Regions from separate parts of the Homo sapiens genome. Here region 2 is linked to region 1. Evidence: fine-mapped expression QTL. Tissue or cell type: whole blood. Region 1 holds a variant in brackets; the other region holds the start of a gene. All regions are shown on one strand. Distances are between the middles of the regions.

Region 1 (8,261 bases):
GAGGGCGTGTCAGGAAGCAGAAACAGTATCAGCAAAGGCGCTGCTGGGAGGCATGTGGGCAGTGTTTGGGGAACGGCCAGGGGCTTTCTGTGTCAGGTTTACAGCATCTGTGGGAGGCTGCGTTGGTAAATAACCCCAGAGAAGTAGGCTGGGGCTACTTACATTAAAAGTATGCATGGCTTTGAAGGCCAGCTGAGTGGTATAAATAGAAACTACAAATAGTATCACATTTATTGAGGACAGCTTGTGCTGCCAAAAGAGTTTTTAAAATTTTTTTGGATTGTGTAATTGGTGGATAAAGAATTATTGACCTAAATGTATCTGATCTTAGAGTGTTTTAGTATGCTAGATTATTGGAGGTGAAATGGCTAAGTCAAAGGTGATGAGTGTTTTTGAGACTCTTAATGTTAATTGCAAAATTAACCTCTAAAAAGGTAGGCCGGGCGCACTGGCTCACGCCTGTAATCCCAGCACTTTGGGAGGCCGAGGCGGGCGGATCACGAGGTCAGGAGATTGAGACCATCCTGGCTAACACGGTGAAACCCCGTCTCTACTAAAAATACAAAAAGTTAGCCCGATGTGGTGGCAGGTGCCTGTGGTCCCAGCTACTCAGGAGGCTGAGGCAGGAGAATGGTGTGAACCCAGGAGGTGGAGCTTGCAGTGAGCCGAGATCACGCCACTGCACTCCAGCCTAGGTGACAGAGTGAGACTCCACCTCGAAAAAAAAATAAATAAATAAAAGCCAGTGCCAGCTTAGACCATGACTGAGAGCTCTTGGTTTATCTTATCCTTGCCGAGCTGGGTGTTACAACATTGAAGCCTTCTGCAGTGTCCTCCCTCCCTTTTTCTCTCTTTCTCTCTCTCTCCTCCCTTTCTTCCTTTTACTTCTCTTAGGATAGGCTCGTCTGTACTTTTTTGATAGAGGTAACCATTTGCCACACCATTTTCTGAAGTGCCTGCTCTCTTCCCCATTCATTTGTGATGGCACATTTATCCTACCCTAAGCTTTGATAACGTGTCAGGATCTTTCTGTCCTGTCCTCTCAAAGAGGTTAAATATTTTTTTATAATAACTTATAATTGACTGAAGTTATAACAGTTTTCTCATGTCAAGTATAAAAACAGGCCAGGCGAGGTGGCTCACACCTGTAATCCCAGCACTTTGGTAGGCCAAGGTGGGTGGAATGCTTGAGTCCAGGAGTTTAAGACCAGCCTGGACAACATGGGACAACCCCATTTCTACAAAAAAAAATACAAAAATTATCCAGGCAAGGTGGTGCACGCGTGTAGTCCCAGTTACTCGGGAGGCTGAGGTGGGAGGATGGCTTGAATCTGGGAGGTGAAGATTGCAGTGAGCTGAGATCACACCACTGCATTCAGTCTGGATAATAGAACAAGACTCTATCTCAAAAAAAAAAATTGTATACTTTATTGACTCATTTATGTCTGATGGGTATTTTTGATTACAAATTGTTTAGTCACTACTTTAAGGCCTGCTTTATTTTTTTCTTAATTTTATTGACTCATTTATGTCTTAGTCTTTTTTATTACAAATTATTTATTGTTCAGTCACTACCTTAGAGCCTGTTTTATTTTTTCTTAATTTTATTGACTCATTTATATCTCAGCCCTTTTTATTACAAATTATTTATTGTTTAGTCACTGCCTTAGAGCCTGTTTTATTTTTTCTTAATTTTATTAAAGGATGATATTGATGATGAAATGTCTTACGATGATCATTTAGAGGTTTATTTCGAACAACTGGCAATTCCAGGAATGATGGAATAAAGCATACGAAGTAGAAGGACTGGAACCTCCAGAAAAAGTACTTTAAGTTACCTACAGGTGATCCTAGTCAGGTATGTTACAGTCTTAATGGCTTTTCAGAAATTTGACAGAAAATCACTGTTGATCTCACTGGATGTTTACATGAATTTTAAGCCTTTGGTTTTCTTTTAACTCTGTTTTTTACAGGTATGAATTGATAAGAAATGCCTGCACCTTCCCTCCTTCCTATCTTTCCCTTGCCTACAGAAAATTAAAAGGCAAAACAATGGACATCTACATATTCTTCATTCAGATCAACCAGTGGCTAGCATTTGCCACCTTTTGCAGTTTCTTTCTCTTTCCATAAGTACTTTCTTCTCTGAATCATTTGAAAGTAAGTTGAAAAGAGCATGATGTTTTACCCCAACACTTCAGCGTTTATCTCTTGTGAATAATGACATATTTCTATGTAATTACAGTTCTACCATCTAACTATAATACAGTAATTTGATGTACAGCCCATATTCAGATTTACCTAATTGTCTCCAAAATGTTCTTTATTTTTGTTTTAGATCCACAGTTTAATCAAAGATTAACCTTGCCTTTGGTTGTCACGTCTCTCTATTCTTTTACTTTGGAGTAGTTCTTTCAATACATGAAACATTTTGAAAAATCTAGGCTCTTTGTTTTGTAGAGTGACCCATAATCTAGATATATCTGGTTGCTTTTTTCTTCTCCTGACTAGAATAGATTGAGCATTTTGGCAAGAATACAGATTAAACAGTGTTCTCATGAGTGGATCCAGATTAAACAGGGAATAATGCCTAATTCAGATTAGGCAGTGTTGTGTACTTACCGCCTCACACCAGGAGATGTTTGCGTCTGTTTGTCCCACGATTGCTGATGCTATGTTTAATAATTTTGGTTGAGATAGTGTCAACTGGACATCTCCTTGTGAGGGTAGCTTTTCCCTTTTGTTATTAGTCATCTGTGGGATGAGACATCAAAGCACTGTGAACATCTTAGTCCCTGGCAACCTTCACGAGCTGGTTTCAGCATCATTGCCGAAGCCTCTTGGAAACATTGATTACACCCGTGGTTCCAATGGTGATTTTTCTCATTCCTTTTACATTGATTACCTGCCTCCTTGAGTAAGGTAGATGTTGTCTACTCCCCATGTTTTCCCTTCAAAATGTTTAATTTTAATTTAAATGATTAATACAGCTAAGTTATTCTTTCAACAGGCAAATGAAAACAGTAGCCTAAAGTGTCAGTTTCAACCCGAAAATAACAGCTCTGATTTCTCATGGCTCACACTCGTCTGAAATGACTCGGGTAGAGGCTGAGGAAGGCTGTGTTGTTTGTCTACCTGGGACTAGTAAGTATAGAAATAGAATTCCTTTGTTCTTAAATTCTACCTTTGACTTTACTTTTAAAATATAATTTCTTTGGTACGATTTAGCTCATGCCTGTAATCCTAGCATTTTGGGAGGCCAAAGAGGGAGAATTGCTTGAGCCCAGAAGTTTGAGACCAGACTCTACACACACACACACACACACACACACACACACACACTAAGCGGGAATGGTGGCATGCTACTGTGGCCTCAGCTACCTGGGAGGCTGAGGTTGGAGGATCATTTGGACCCAGGAGGTGGAGGCTGCAGTGAACCATGATTGTGCCACTGTACTCCAGCCTGGGTGACAGAGCAAGACCCTGTCTCACAAAAGAAAAAGAAGAGATCATCTATTAGTCCTCTTGATTTTTGTTAAAATGTGTTATGTGATAGTTGATAAGCTTTATGCATATGTCAATCTGTGGCCATTTAATTTTGGGCTAAGGACTTGTTCTATTATAGCACAGTAATCATTTTACTAAATAGT[G/A]ACTATTTGTCATTAAAAACAATATATTTAGTTTTAATACAGTTGAATACTCACAAATTTCTGGGGGAACTTGGTCAGGACATTTCAACTGAGAATTGTCAGGCACCTTCTCGCTGATAGGCATGCTGCTCGGTGGTGCAGCTCATAAGCAGACAACCCCCTTCATGTAATTTAGTAGGAAAATGACAGAAATACTTGTGTAACTATAAAGTAAAGCAGAATTCTGGTTATTGAATCACAGCACCTACTGAAAGAAGTTCTCAAGTTCTGATTGAGTTCTAAAATTCTTTTGAAGATTGGAATTCTTCATATGTAAGTAAAAACAATTTCTGATGACCCATTTCTAGTCCATCTCCTAAAGAAGTATTTAATCTGGGCCATGCATGGTGGCTCACGCCTGTCATCCCAGCACTTTGGGAGGCTGGGGTGGGTGGATCATGAGGTCAAGAGATCAAGACCATCCTGGCCAACATGGTGAAACCCCATCTCTACTAAAAACACGAAAATTAGCTGAGCATGGTGGCACGTGCCTGTAGTCCCAGCTACTCGGGAGGCTGAGGCAGGAGAATCACTTGAACCTGGGAGGTGGGGGCTACAGTGAGCTAAGATTGCGCCACTGCACTCCAGCCTGGCAACAGAGCAAGACTCCATCTGAAAAAAAAAAAAAAAGTATTTAATCTAAGCTGGGCATGATGGCTCACTCCTGTAATCCCAGCACTTTTAGAGGCCAAGGTATGAGGGTTACTATAAACCAGGAGTTTGACACCAGCCTAGGCAACAATAGCAAGACCCCGTTTCTACAAAAAAAAATTTAAAAATTAGCTGCGCAGGAGGCTGAGTTGGGAGGATCACTTGAGCTTAGGAGTTAGAGGTTGTAGAAAGCTATGATCATACCACTGCACTCCAGGCTGGATGACAGTGGGCCCTGTCTCTAAAACACAAAAAAAACTAACAAAAAAAGTGTTTAATCCATAAGATGACCACATTTATAGGAGGCTCCCAGCAATCTTAGCCTGAAGCCATGAAGGAAGACGCAGTGTGAAGGCAAGTACAGGCTGGCCTCTGGCAGCTGAGGATCAGGACAGGATGTGGAGTGAACCTCCACATCAAAGCTTTATTGCTTGGATTGGAAAAAAAATTCCTATCTGTAGGTCAGCCTTAAAATACACCATTTCATAAAATATTGTCTTTCCCATATTTTGAGCCCATGCAATTTGTGCTACCTGAGGGAACAGTATTGTGTCCTTGATTTGGTGAGATCAGTAGCTTTCTTATCTTATTGAGTGACAGCTACAGAACTCAGAAACAGAAGCTGCATATTAAGCAAATTTACATCTTTCTTGTTATAATATTATTGTGTATAAGAAATAGAGATGGCCGGGTGCGGTGGCTCACGCCTGTAATCTCAGCACTTTGGGAGGCTGAGGCAGACGGATCACAAGGTCAGGAGTTTGAGACCAGCCTGGCCAACATGGTGAAACCCTGTCTCTACTAAAAATACAAAAGGCAATAAGAGGTTCTATGTGGACTTTGAAGGTCGTCTCTATCAATTTGAGGTTGGGAAGAACAGTTTTGTTGACATCCTTTAGCTGTGTTACAAGTACAATTTTGTTTTTTACTCAGGCAAAAGAAAATGTGTGTGTGTGTTAAATACAGTCAGCCCTCTTTATCTGTGGGTCCTGCATCCTTGCTTTCTACCAACCTCAGATCAAAAATATTCCAGAAAAAAAAGGATGGTTGCATCTGTACTGAATATGTACAAGCTTTTTTTCTTGTCATTCTTTATGCAATAAAGTATAACAACCATTTACGTTGCATTTCCATTGTATTAGGTATTGTGGGTAATCTAGAGATGATTTGAAGGATATTGGAGGGTGTGTCCAGGCTGCAGGCAAGTACTATGGCATTTTATGTCAGGGACACCTACAGATTTTTGTCTCCAGCCATGGTTCCTGTATAGTTTAACATTTCCACACGCTGAGGGTGTGATGGGTCTGAGTTGGGTTGGTCCCCCATGTTTGAGGAAGTGTGCCCATCATGATTGTACACCCTTGTTGTAAACTTCGGATATGTCTATTTTGATATTTAAAACATTTTCAGGTTAAGTCTGAAAAATGCCAAGATAGTAACAATATTTTAAAAGGGAATTCAGAAGTATTACTATAATAATAGAACTCATTATTAGAACATTCTAATAGTAGAAAAGGAAGTCTATTTATTTTATAAAATTGTCAGTTCAGCTTAAGATCTAATAGTCTTTTCCAATTAGCATCAACTTAATTGAGACTACCTCAAAAGAAGAATTTAACACTTATTTTTGTAGAAAAAAAGCAATTTTAAAATAGCCTGGGAAAACTTAGGTAAGTTTTCCTTAATCCTGACTCCTAATTTGTGGCTAGAAGTGGCAATGATATGAACATAAGTTGTGCTATTTGTTAATATATTGCTTTTCATAAATCAATCCCTTTTTTGTAATTAGGTAAAAAGAGAAGAGAAAGACATTCTTGATTTTGGTGACTAGAGTTGTAGATGCTGGAAGCTTTGCCACTAACATTGATGAACCAGATGCATGTCACCAGCCCATCACGGTGATTCTTAATGCCGTTAAGTATGAACATACAGTAAAATACTGTTGATAGAATACATCGGTCTTATGAAATGTTTTGGTTAAGGATTTTTTAAACGAATTTCACATTACACAACTGGCTTTACTAAATCTGAGTCTTGTATTTCTGAACAGGGCACCATGGGCCGGCACTGCCACGTTTTCCAAGGAACCTGCCAGAGCTCCTGCGGAAGCTGCTCCTCGGGCGATGGAGTCCCTTTGCTGCTAGGCCCTTCTTCAGTCACCACAGGATGCCTGCCATTCATGAACAGGAAGGAGAGGACGGGCTTTGAATAAAAAACAGGTAAGTTTCCAAACTGCTTTTTTTCATCAAGATTTCAATCTTGGCTGGGCAAAGTGGCTCACGCCTGTAATCTCAGCATTTTGGGAGGCCAAGGCAGGCAGATCATGAGGTCAGGAGATAGAGACCATCCTGGCCAACATCATCTCCTCAGCACCCAGCTCAGTCATTTAGACAAAGAAAATATGTAAGATGACCGAGCACGGTTGCTCACGCCTGTAATCCCAGCACTTTGGGAGGCTGAGGTGGGCGGATCACGAGGTCAGGAGATCGAGACCGTCCTGGCTAACACGGTGAAACCCCATCTCTACTAAAAATACAAAAAAAAAAAAATTAGCTGGGCATGGTGGCAGGCACCTCTAGTCCCAGCTACTCGGGAGGCTGAGGCAGGAGAATGACGTGAAGCCAGGAGGCGGAGCTTGCAGTGAGCTGAGATCGTGCTACTGCACTCCAGCCTAGGCAACAGAGCGAGACTCCTCAAAAAAAAAAAAAAGAAAAGAAAGAAAAAGAAAACACGTAAGAAACAGTTGCCAAAATAATTGAATACAGGATCTTCAACTGAGATTATTTTCTTTGTTAGGATCCAGGAAATATTTGTGAGGCCATTTGGACTTCAGTGTGAAATGGTGTTAAAAGATGAAGTCATTTATTCAAGAAGTAAACCTCTGCCACCTGGACTGTGCTCAGACATTTCATTGATTTTGTTTAATAAACATTTTCTGGCTTTGGGAGGTGTCTCTCTTGGTAGAGCACAGTGTCAAAGATGGACAAGATGGACACATAGTCCATTATTTGGTATTGTTTGTGTATGGGAGCGGACCACAAATTAATGTTTGGAGAACAATTTTGTCATAACACACTGTTGAGGCTCAGTTGTACAGAACTGGAAAAGTCTTTCAGCTTGGCACATGTCCTGATTCAGCCTTTGTTTAACATACATTCCAATCCGGATTCTATCTTCACTGGCTACAAAGACCACCTGATACGTGCACCACGACACAGGAGCTGCTGGAGAGGGGGTAGTGTTATCACCTCAAACCCACAGCCATATTTTTCAAAAGCCAGCTTAGAGAGAGGTGTACTGATAGCTGCATAGAGAACATGCAGTCCATCCATTCTTCCCAGTGATGTACATTTCTCAATCAGTAACCACGTGGTATACCAGCCTTGAGTGTCACATCTCCCAACCATACCAAATGGATCACCTAACTGGAGGTGGGGGGGGCCCCTCAGAAATGAGATTTCGTATTTACTGTAAAATTGCCTTATTTTTTCTTTTGAGGTGGAGTCTCACTCTGTTGCCTGGGCTGGAGTGCAATGGTGTGATCACTGCTCACTGCAACCTCCGCCTCCTGGGTTCAAGCAGTTCTCCTGCCTCAGCCTCCCAAGTAGCTGCAATTACAGGCGCATGCCACCACTCCCAGCAAATTTTTATATTTTTAGTGGAGACAGGGTTTCACCATGTTGGCCAGGCTGGTCTCAAACTCCTGACCTCAGGTGATCTGCCCACCTTGGCCTCCCAAAGTTCTGGGATTAAAGGTACGAGCCACCGCAACTGGCTGAGAATCTTTTTATTTGCTGATTTGTCTCTTGTGTATTTTCTTTGTTCAGATGTCTCTTCAGATCTTTTTCTCACTTTTAAATTGTTTTTTTAATTGTTAAGAATTTTCTGTCTAGTTTAGATATAAGCCCTTTATCAGACATG
Region 2 (8,000 bases), 66 kb before region 1:
TGAGAACACATGCACACAGGAAGGGGAGCATCGCAGACCAGGGCCTGTTGTGGGGTGGGGGGAGGGATAGCATTAGGAGATATACCTAATGTAAATGATGAGTTAATGGGTGCAGCACACCAACATGGCACATGTATACATATGTAACAAACCTGCACGTTGTGCACATGTACCCTAGAACTTAAAGTATAATAAAAAATATATATATATAAATTTTATTGGGACTATTTTGATTCTACACCACTATTCTTTATTGGGTGTAACCCAGCAGGTCCACGAATAATAATAATTATTATTATTACCTTTTTTTTTGAGATGGAGTGTCACTCTTGTCACCTGGGCTAGAGTGCAGATGCGCAAAAGAGTGAGACTCTGTCTCAAAATAAATAAATAAAATAAAAACAGGAAAATACATTTGTTGACCTCCTGGGTTGTGCCCAATAAAGAATAGTGGAGTTTAATAGCGGTTCACTGCAACCTCCACCTCCCAGCTTAAAGCGATTCTTCTCCCTCAGTCTCCCAAGTAGCTGGGATTACGGCACCCACCACCATACTCAGCTAATTTTTGTATTTTTAGTAGAGACAGGGTTTCACCATGTTGGCCAGGCTGGTCTCAAACTCCTGACTTCAGGTGATCCGCCCACATTGTCCTCCCAAAGTGCTAGATTACAGGCGTGAACCACCACGTCCGGCCTAACAAATGATTTTTCATAGGTCACTGGACATCAAGGAGCCACTTGTGAACCAGGTGGAATGCAGGTGGGATGCATAGCACATGGCCCACAGGACCTGCACTGTGGGTTGGATACAGTAACGGAAGGGGCCTTTGGTCTTTCTTTTTTTTTTTTTTTTTTTGAGAGAGAGTCTTGCTCTGTTCCCCAGGCTGGAGTGCAGTGGCGTGATCTCGGCTCACTGCAAACTGCGCCTCCCGGGTTCACGCCATTCTCCTGCCTCAGCCTCCAGAGTAGCTGCTGGGACTACAGGCGCCCACCACCACGCCTGGCTAATTTTTTGTATTTTTAGTTGAGACGGGGTTTCACCGTGTTAGCCAGGATGGTTTCGATCTCCTGACCTCGTGATCCACCCGCCTCGGCCTCCCAAAGTGCTGGGATTACAGGCGTGAGCCACCGCGCCTGGCAAGGGACTTTGGTCTTTCTTGCTTGGGGCTGGGATGAGTGTGTACTTGTGAGAAGAAGGAGGCACAAGGCAGATTGGGTGGCCACAGCTGTAACCTGGAGCCACAGAGCAGGCTTCTGTTACACACTATTCTTCTTTTCTTCACTTTAACAGAACCATCCCTTGAGGTTTAGCTGGGGGCACCTGGCTGCCCAGCTACAGACTAGATTTTCCAGACTAATTTATATCAATTTTCTTTATTCCTTTAAAAGTTGTTTATTTATTGCACTTACATACTAAGATACCATTCTCAAAGGACCACGAAAGCAGAAATGGTTAATATATGAAGCTGTCTATAGGCATGATAGAATAAAAAGTTTAAAAATTATTTGGGTCAGGCTTAAATAACTTTAACAGGTTAAAAAAAGTGTTTGACAATATTCAACAAATAATTCTTCACCTAATTTCTTATTGAAGCAATCACCTTAATATTCATTGGCCTTGATAAATGTGAACACTGGTCATATTTATGTAAATAATGGTCATGTGGCTTTCTTGGCATATCTAAATTCATGTTAGATCTGGCTTAACCTGTGCTTATGTATGTATATGTTACAGTTATGTACATTAAATGTGTGTGTAAGAGTTGGAATTATTTGAAAGATAGCAAAATTTTAACTAGAAAAAATAAGTTAATATCTAATAATAGTTGACTTGTTGATTAAAATAAGTAGTTATTATGAAAGAGAAAAAAGGTGATTTCAAATTGATTCAGAAGAACTGGCCTAGCAACTAAGATTGTATGCTTTCCTTTTTTTTTAAAAAAAAAAAGAACGGATATAATGTTATGTGACAATTAAATACAGAAATTACAAAACTAGTTAAATTGATGTTGCCATTAAAGCAACATTAAATAGTTTTGGGGGAGAAGAAAGAAGCCGAGAAGATGGTATCTGTGCAGTTAAGATGGTCATGTCATTTGATACATGTAAACAGAAAGCAGCCTGAGGCCCACACCTGCACCATGCTGAAAGAGCTGACCAGCGTTATATGTTCAGTCCTAGATGAAATGCTGCATTTGTTTTTTAAACACTGGTATGCATTGTTTTAAAAATGTATAAAATAACAGTGAAAAGTTAAAGAATCGTAAGAATGTAGCTAAAGGTAAAAAAAATTTGCAAAGCCATAATTTTTATGATGAAACAATATATTTTTTATCTTTTACGTATAATGTTTTAATGCTTTTTTAGCCCAATGAAATGTGGAAGTGTTTTGTGATTTTTATCTTACTATAGTGATTGTTTTATAAACAAAGAAAAAATTAATTCAGGATTGCAGATATGGTAAACTATTAAAATAGTTTGGGTATTAAAATATGAAATAATTGGGTATTAATTCAAAATCCAAGAGTTGCCATTGAACAAACCTGTAGGCATAGGTAAGTGCTGAGGTGAAAGTGCCAACCAAAGCCGTTAGATTGAACATTTATGCCTGGAGGGAATCAGTAGAGGAACTGGCTGTGGACCTTCACCTCTGCATCCCCTTTGCTTTCTGCTGTAGCTGGGTATCACAAAAACAACAACAAAAGCCACTTATTTCTTAAAGACAGAGAAAGGATAGTTCCTTCCATTTAGGCATTCCTAAATTGCCTCCCCGGTGGCCCCTGCGCTCTTGGAGGAGGTCAAGGCAGAGCAGACCCTCAGGTGGGGGAGCGATGCACTTGACCCTGAGGACATCAGGTACCAGGCCCACTAGCCCCCGCAGGCGCGGAGCTGCGGCTGCAGCCACCAGCCTAGACGTGGCGCGCCCGCAGCAAGTGGCTGGACACCGCAGACCAGGCCCGCGTCCCCAGCAGCGCGGATCCCGGGGCCAGCCGCCCAGGCAGCAAAGTCAGGCGGTCGGCTTCGCCAGCAGCCGATGAGTCTCATCCTGTGGATTGCCCAGCGCCAGGGATCAGGATCCGGAGAGGTGTCCAGGAGGAGCAGACCCTCAGACCAGGTAGGCTGTGCACTCAGTGACCCTGACGCCATCCAAGGGAAGCTCCGCCATCCCGCGCCAGTGCCAGAGCTGCAACTGCAAACTGCGCGTCCTGGCACGAGCAGCGGTGGGGGCGGGTGGGGGAAGGAGCGAGTGACTCTCCAGGCGTCTTCCGCTACCTGACACCAGCCAGGCAGCCCCCAGGGCCAGAGCGTCAGCGCCGAAGCCAGGCTCATCCGGGAAGCCACTCCGGTGGCCGCGGGGTGCCCATGCCAGCACCAGATCTCTCTTCGGAAGGAGGAGCGGGGCGGGCTACACGGCCAGGCGGGCCCTCCCCTTAAGGCGGGGTGGGCCGCGCGCCTGCGATTTTCCGTCCGTGGTCCTGGGGCAGCCCTGGCCAGCCCAGGAGAACCCGCGAGCCCAGCGGCGCCTGCACCTGCGGCTTCCGGGAGCCGGGCGGCTTTGCGAGGCTCACTAGGTCTGAGAGGTCGGAGGCCGCCAGTGTCGCTGCTGAAGGGTGGACCAGGCGGGATCGCGGATTCTGGGCTAGATCGCAGACTTGGTATCGCGGATTGGGATTTGGATCGGGGATTTTGAGTTGGATCACGGATTGGGGGTTGGATCACGGATTGGGGTTTGGATCGCGGATTGGGGGTTGGATAGGGGATTTGGAGTTGGATTGGGGATTTGGGGCTGGGTGTGGGGCGAGGGGGAGTGAAAAGGTGACACGGAGCTGCCGCGGCTCAGGAGCCAGTGGTTGGGGGTCTGAGAAGAACTCACCACCTTGAAGAAGTTCTTCGGCTTTGGGAGCCGCAGGGGCCGGCGGTCCGGGGCTCCCTAGGCCACGTCTACAGGGGTTCGGGGTACCGAATCGGAAGATCCACAGGGCGCTGTCAAGGGCGAAGCCGCGGAAGTGGAGCGCTGCCTGGCGCGCAGGAGCAGAGACCTGGAAGCCGGGGACAGGCAGCACAGGCAGTGGGGTGGGGGCTCAGCCCAGGGTGGGAGGGGGTCCCCAGGCCCGGCTTCCCCGCAGCCCCTGGGATGGGGCCTCAGAGGGCACCCTCAGAGGGGTGGTGCCAAACGGAGCCTCAGCTGCTCTGCATCCCCCATAATTCCCCAGCTGGAGCGCTTGGTGGAGAATGTGAGTGATTTAACTCACCAAGCTAAGCATACACAGTGTTATTTTTAACCTACACGTTTAAAACATGGTGTTATATACATTATAGGAGGTGCCTAATGAGAGAACTCATTCCTCTATCAAAAAATACCGTGAGTCGGCCGGGCGCGGTGGCTCAGGCCTGTAATCCCAGCACTTTGGGAGGCCGAGGCGGGCGGATCACCAGGTCAAGAGATCGAGACCATCCTGGCTAACACGGTGAAACCCCGTCTCTACTAAAAATACAAAAAAAAAAAAAAAAATTAGCCGGGCGTGGTGGCGGGCGCCTGTAGTCCCAGCTACTCGGGAGGCTGAGGCAGGAGAATGGCGTGAACCCGGGAGGCGCAGCTTGCAGTGAGCCGAGATGGCGCCACTGCACTCCAGCCTGGGCGACAGAGCGAGACTCCGTCTCCAAAAAAGAAAAACAAACAAACAAACAAAAAACCGTGAGTCATTTTCAGTAGCGAAAAGCTCTCACCTAAAACTGTCCGTTTTACATCCGTATCCACCTGTGTAGATCGGTTCTTTACTGAAGGTTCTTAGAAGGAAACTTGGAAGTGGGAGGTGGGTTCTGTGTTCCTGAATGGGAAGACACATTTTTCTCAAAATGTGAGCTCTTTCTGTGATTATCAATTTTACATAAGCCGAATGAAAAAATCAAGGTTTTAACATTTTTGCATGACACCTACTGTCTTTTACTATTGTAATGACATTTGTAAAAATTTTAGGGCTGGGCGCGGTGGCTCAGGCCTGTAATCCCAGCACTTTGGGAGGCCGAGGTGGGCGGATCACGAGGTCAGGAGATTGAGATTGAGACCATCCTGGCAAACACGGTGAAACCCTGTCTGTACTAAAAATACAAAAAAAAAAAAAAAAAAAAAAAATAGCCGGGCGTGGTGGTGGGCGCCCATAGTCCCAGCTACTCCGGAGGCTGAGGCAGGAGAATGCTGTGAACCCGGGAGGGGGAGCTTGCAGTGAGCCGCCATCCAGAAGTGCTGGGATTACAGGTGTGAGCCACCGCGCCCGGCCTGAAAAGTGCATCTTCATTTTACAGGGAATTCTTTCAAATCAAATAATCAAAAACTGTAAAAGGGGGCAAAGTACTTTTTTGCAGATCTACAAGTTTCTTATGTAAATAGGAAAAAAAGCCTTTGCTTTTCTGGTATAAGAATTTAAATTAAAAGAGGAATGAAACTGTTTTCTATCCACAATGTGTGAGGATGTTTTTTATACTGCTGCCTGAAGTTTAAGTTGCTGATTACTTTTTAAATAGATAATTTGGTGGTAAGTACTATATTTTAAAAATGCGTATGCCCGTTACCCTTCAATTCCATTATACTAAAATACCCTTGGGAAATAGAGATACATGCACTTTGTTTTTCACAGCACTTATTTTAAAAAGAACCCATAGAATGGATCTTATAAGTAAATTTCAGTTGCATCCATAGGATGCAATAATATGTGACCATCAAAGGTGACAATAGATATAGAAGTACGTTGATGTGCGAAGATGTATTTTGTTTTAGCCAGCGAGGAAAAAAGAATCAGTTTGATTACACATTTACCAAACATTAAGAATTTAATATGGTAACTTTTATTTCAGTATTAAAATAGCAATTTTATTTATTACTTTTTTATATACAGAATTCGACACCAAATTTTGGAACTTAAAAAGAAGATTCTTAAAACTTACAATCCAGGTAAGACTTCTGATAGTGAATTTCTCATTTCTCATGGTGGTCCTACTCTTGGTTTAAAAAAATTAAGATGTAAGATTAAGGTAGTTTTGAAGGAAAAGAAAAGTTTAAAAAGATGTGTAAATTGCATGTATATATACATATATACATACATGTAAATTAGTTTCTTATATTTAACTTCTTTAGTTTGGAATTAAGAGTTATTTAAGAAGGTAGTTGTAGCTGATTTATAATCTCAAACAGTATTATCTGAAAAAAAATCATTTACTTAATTATGATCCCGAAAATCCTATATAATATTTATGTTTTCTCTATAGTCACATTGTAACAAATTGGACTTGTTATACATATGGATCTTCTAGTTCATTTTTGTAATAAGTTGTTTATTTTTATAATAAATTGTTTATATTTAGTAAATACATAATTACACTTGACCCATGAATAATGTGGGGGTTAGGGGCTCTGATTCCAGTGCAGCTGAAAATCTAAGTATAACTTTTGATTTTCCCAATTTAGCTACTAATAGCCCACTATTGACTGGAAGCCTTCCTGATAACATAAACGGTCGATTAACACCTATTTTATTTGTGCTGCATTATTATATACTGTGTTCTTACAATAAAGTAAGCTAGACAAGTGAAGCTGTTAGAAAGAAAATCTGCAGGAAAAATATATTGACTTTTCATAAAGCGTAAATGGATCCTCACAAAGGTCTTCATCTTTATCATCTTCAGGTTGTTCAGGCTGAGAAGGAAGAGAGGTTGGTCTTGCTGTCTCTGGGTTGCAGAGGCAGAAGAAAATCTGCATATAAATGAACTCCTGCAGCTCAAACCCTTGCTGTTCAAGGGTGAACTGTATTACCTGTTAATTTGTGTCACTAAGGAAGTATCTTTAGAACCGGGAACTCAACAATCCCTTTCTCGTAGAATAAATAAATGGCAGTAAGAACTGTAAAAGTGAACCAGTGTGCACCCATACGAATAGGAGATTATTTTTTGAAGATACCTACTGAGTGCAGAAGACAGAAAAGCAATTCCTTTGTGAGAAGCACAAGTTATGTTACATATTCTTACATAAGCAAAATGGTTTTATCTGTCATAGTTTACACACACACGTGCACATACACACATGTGCGTTCGGGTGCGCACACACACACACACACGCACACAAAGTTAAAAGTCCTGCTGATTGTTAATGACCAAATCCACTGCTTGCAGGGAGTAGTGGATAACACAGCCTACAGCTTGCATGCAATTCTTTTGGCTTTTTGACTTGTTCTGTGATGAACTGCCTTGAATGGGTCAACCATATTTTAGTTTTATAAGAAATGAAAAGATTAGAAGCAAGTAAAAGGAACTCTATGATCAGTAGTTATACTATTATACTATATTCAATGGTTATGTTTTTTTCCAGTTATGCAAGTTACTTGAATGATGCACAATTAATTTATTATCATTATTATAAGAGATGGGCTCTCTCTATGTTGCCCAGGCTAGAATATGGTGTCTATTCAGTGGTACAGTCATAGCTCACTGTAGCCTGGAACTTCTGGGCTCAAGCAGTCGTCCCACCTCATCCTCCTGAGTAGCTGGGATTGTAGCTATGTGTAGTTACATCTAGCTGGATACACAATCATTTGTTTATTTATTTATTCATTTTTATTATTATTATTTTTTGAGACAGGTCCCCCTCTGTTGCCAGTACTGGAGTGCAGTGGTGGGATCTATCTTGGCTCCCTGCAACTTCTGCTTTCTGGCCTTAAATGATTCTTTCACCTCAGCCTCCCAAGTAGCTGGGACTACAGGCATGCCCCACCACACTTGGCTAATTTTCCTTTTAAGGTTTTTTTTTTCCTCACTATATTGCCCAGGCTGGTCTGGAAGTCTGGAACTTCTGGGCTCAAGTGATCCTCCTGCTTTGGCCTCCCAAAATGCTAGGATTTTATGGATGTGAGCCACCACACCTGGCCTGCACAATTATTATAAAAAGGAATTAAGCCCAGTTGAGTTGCAGAAAATTGACCACCTTTTCATTTTTTTTTTTTTCTAGAAACA

What was found. PIP is the estimated chance that this variant, and not a neighbour inherited with it, causes the effect.
Region 2: it holds the start of FAM153A, and the variant in region 1 is fine-mapped to the expression of FAM153A in whole blood (TOPMed, PIP above 0.99).

Annotation. Positions count from the first base shown.
Region 1 is chr5:177,712,046-177,720,306 of GRCh38, reverse strand. LOC107986489 (a long non-coding RNA gene) reads right to left here. Exons shown (of 5, transcript XR_001743020.2): 3 at 3,705-3,853; 4 at 2,623-2,754. It also overlaps a transcript of FAM153A not described here. Among named protein-coding and RNA genes, the nearest start is that of FAM153A, 67 kb to the left of the region's middle. The variant G/A (reference allele first, on the strand shown) is at 3,651.
Region 2 is chr5:177,778,398-177,786,397 of GRCh38, reverse strand. FAM153A (family with sequence similarity 153 member A) reads left to right here and starts at 3,499. Exons shown (of 23, transcript NM_001413826.1): 1 at 3,499-3,655; 2 at 5,894-5,949.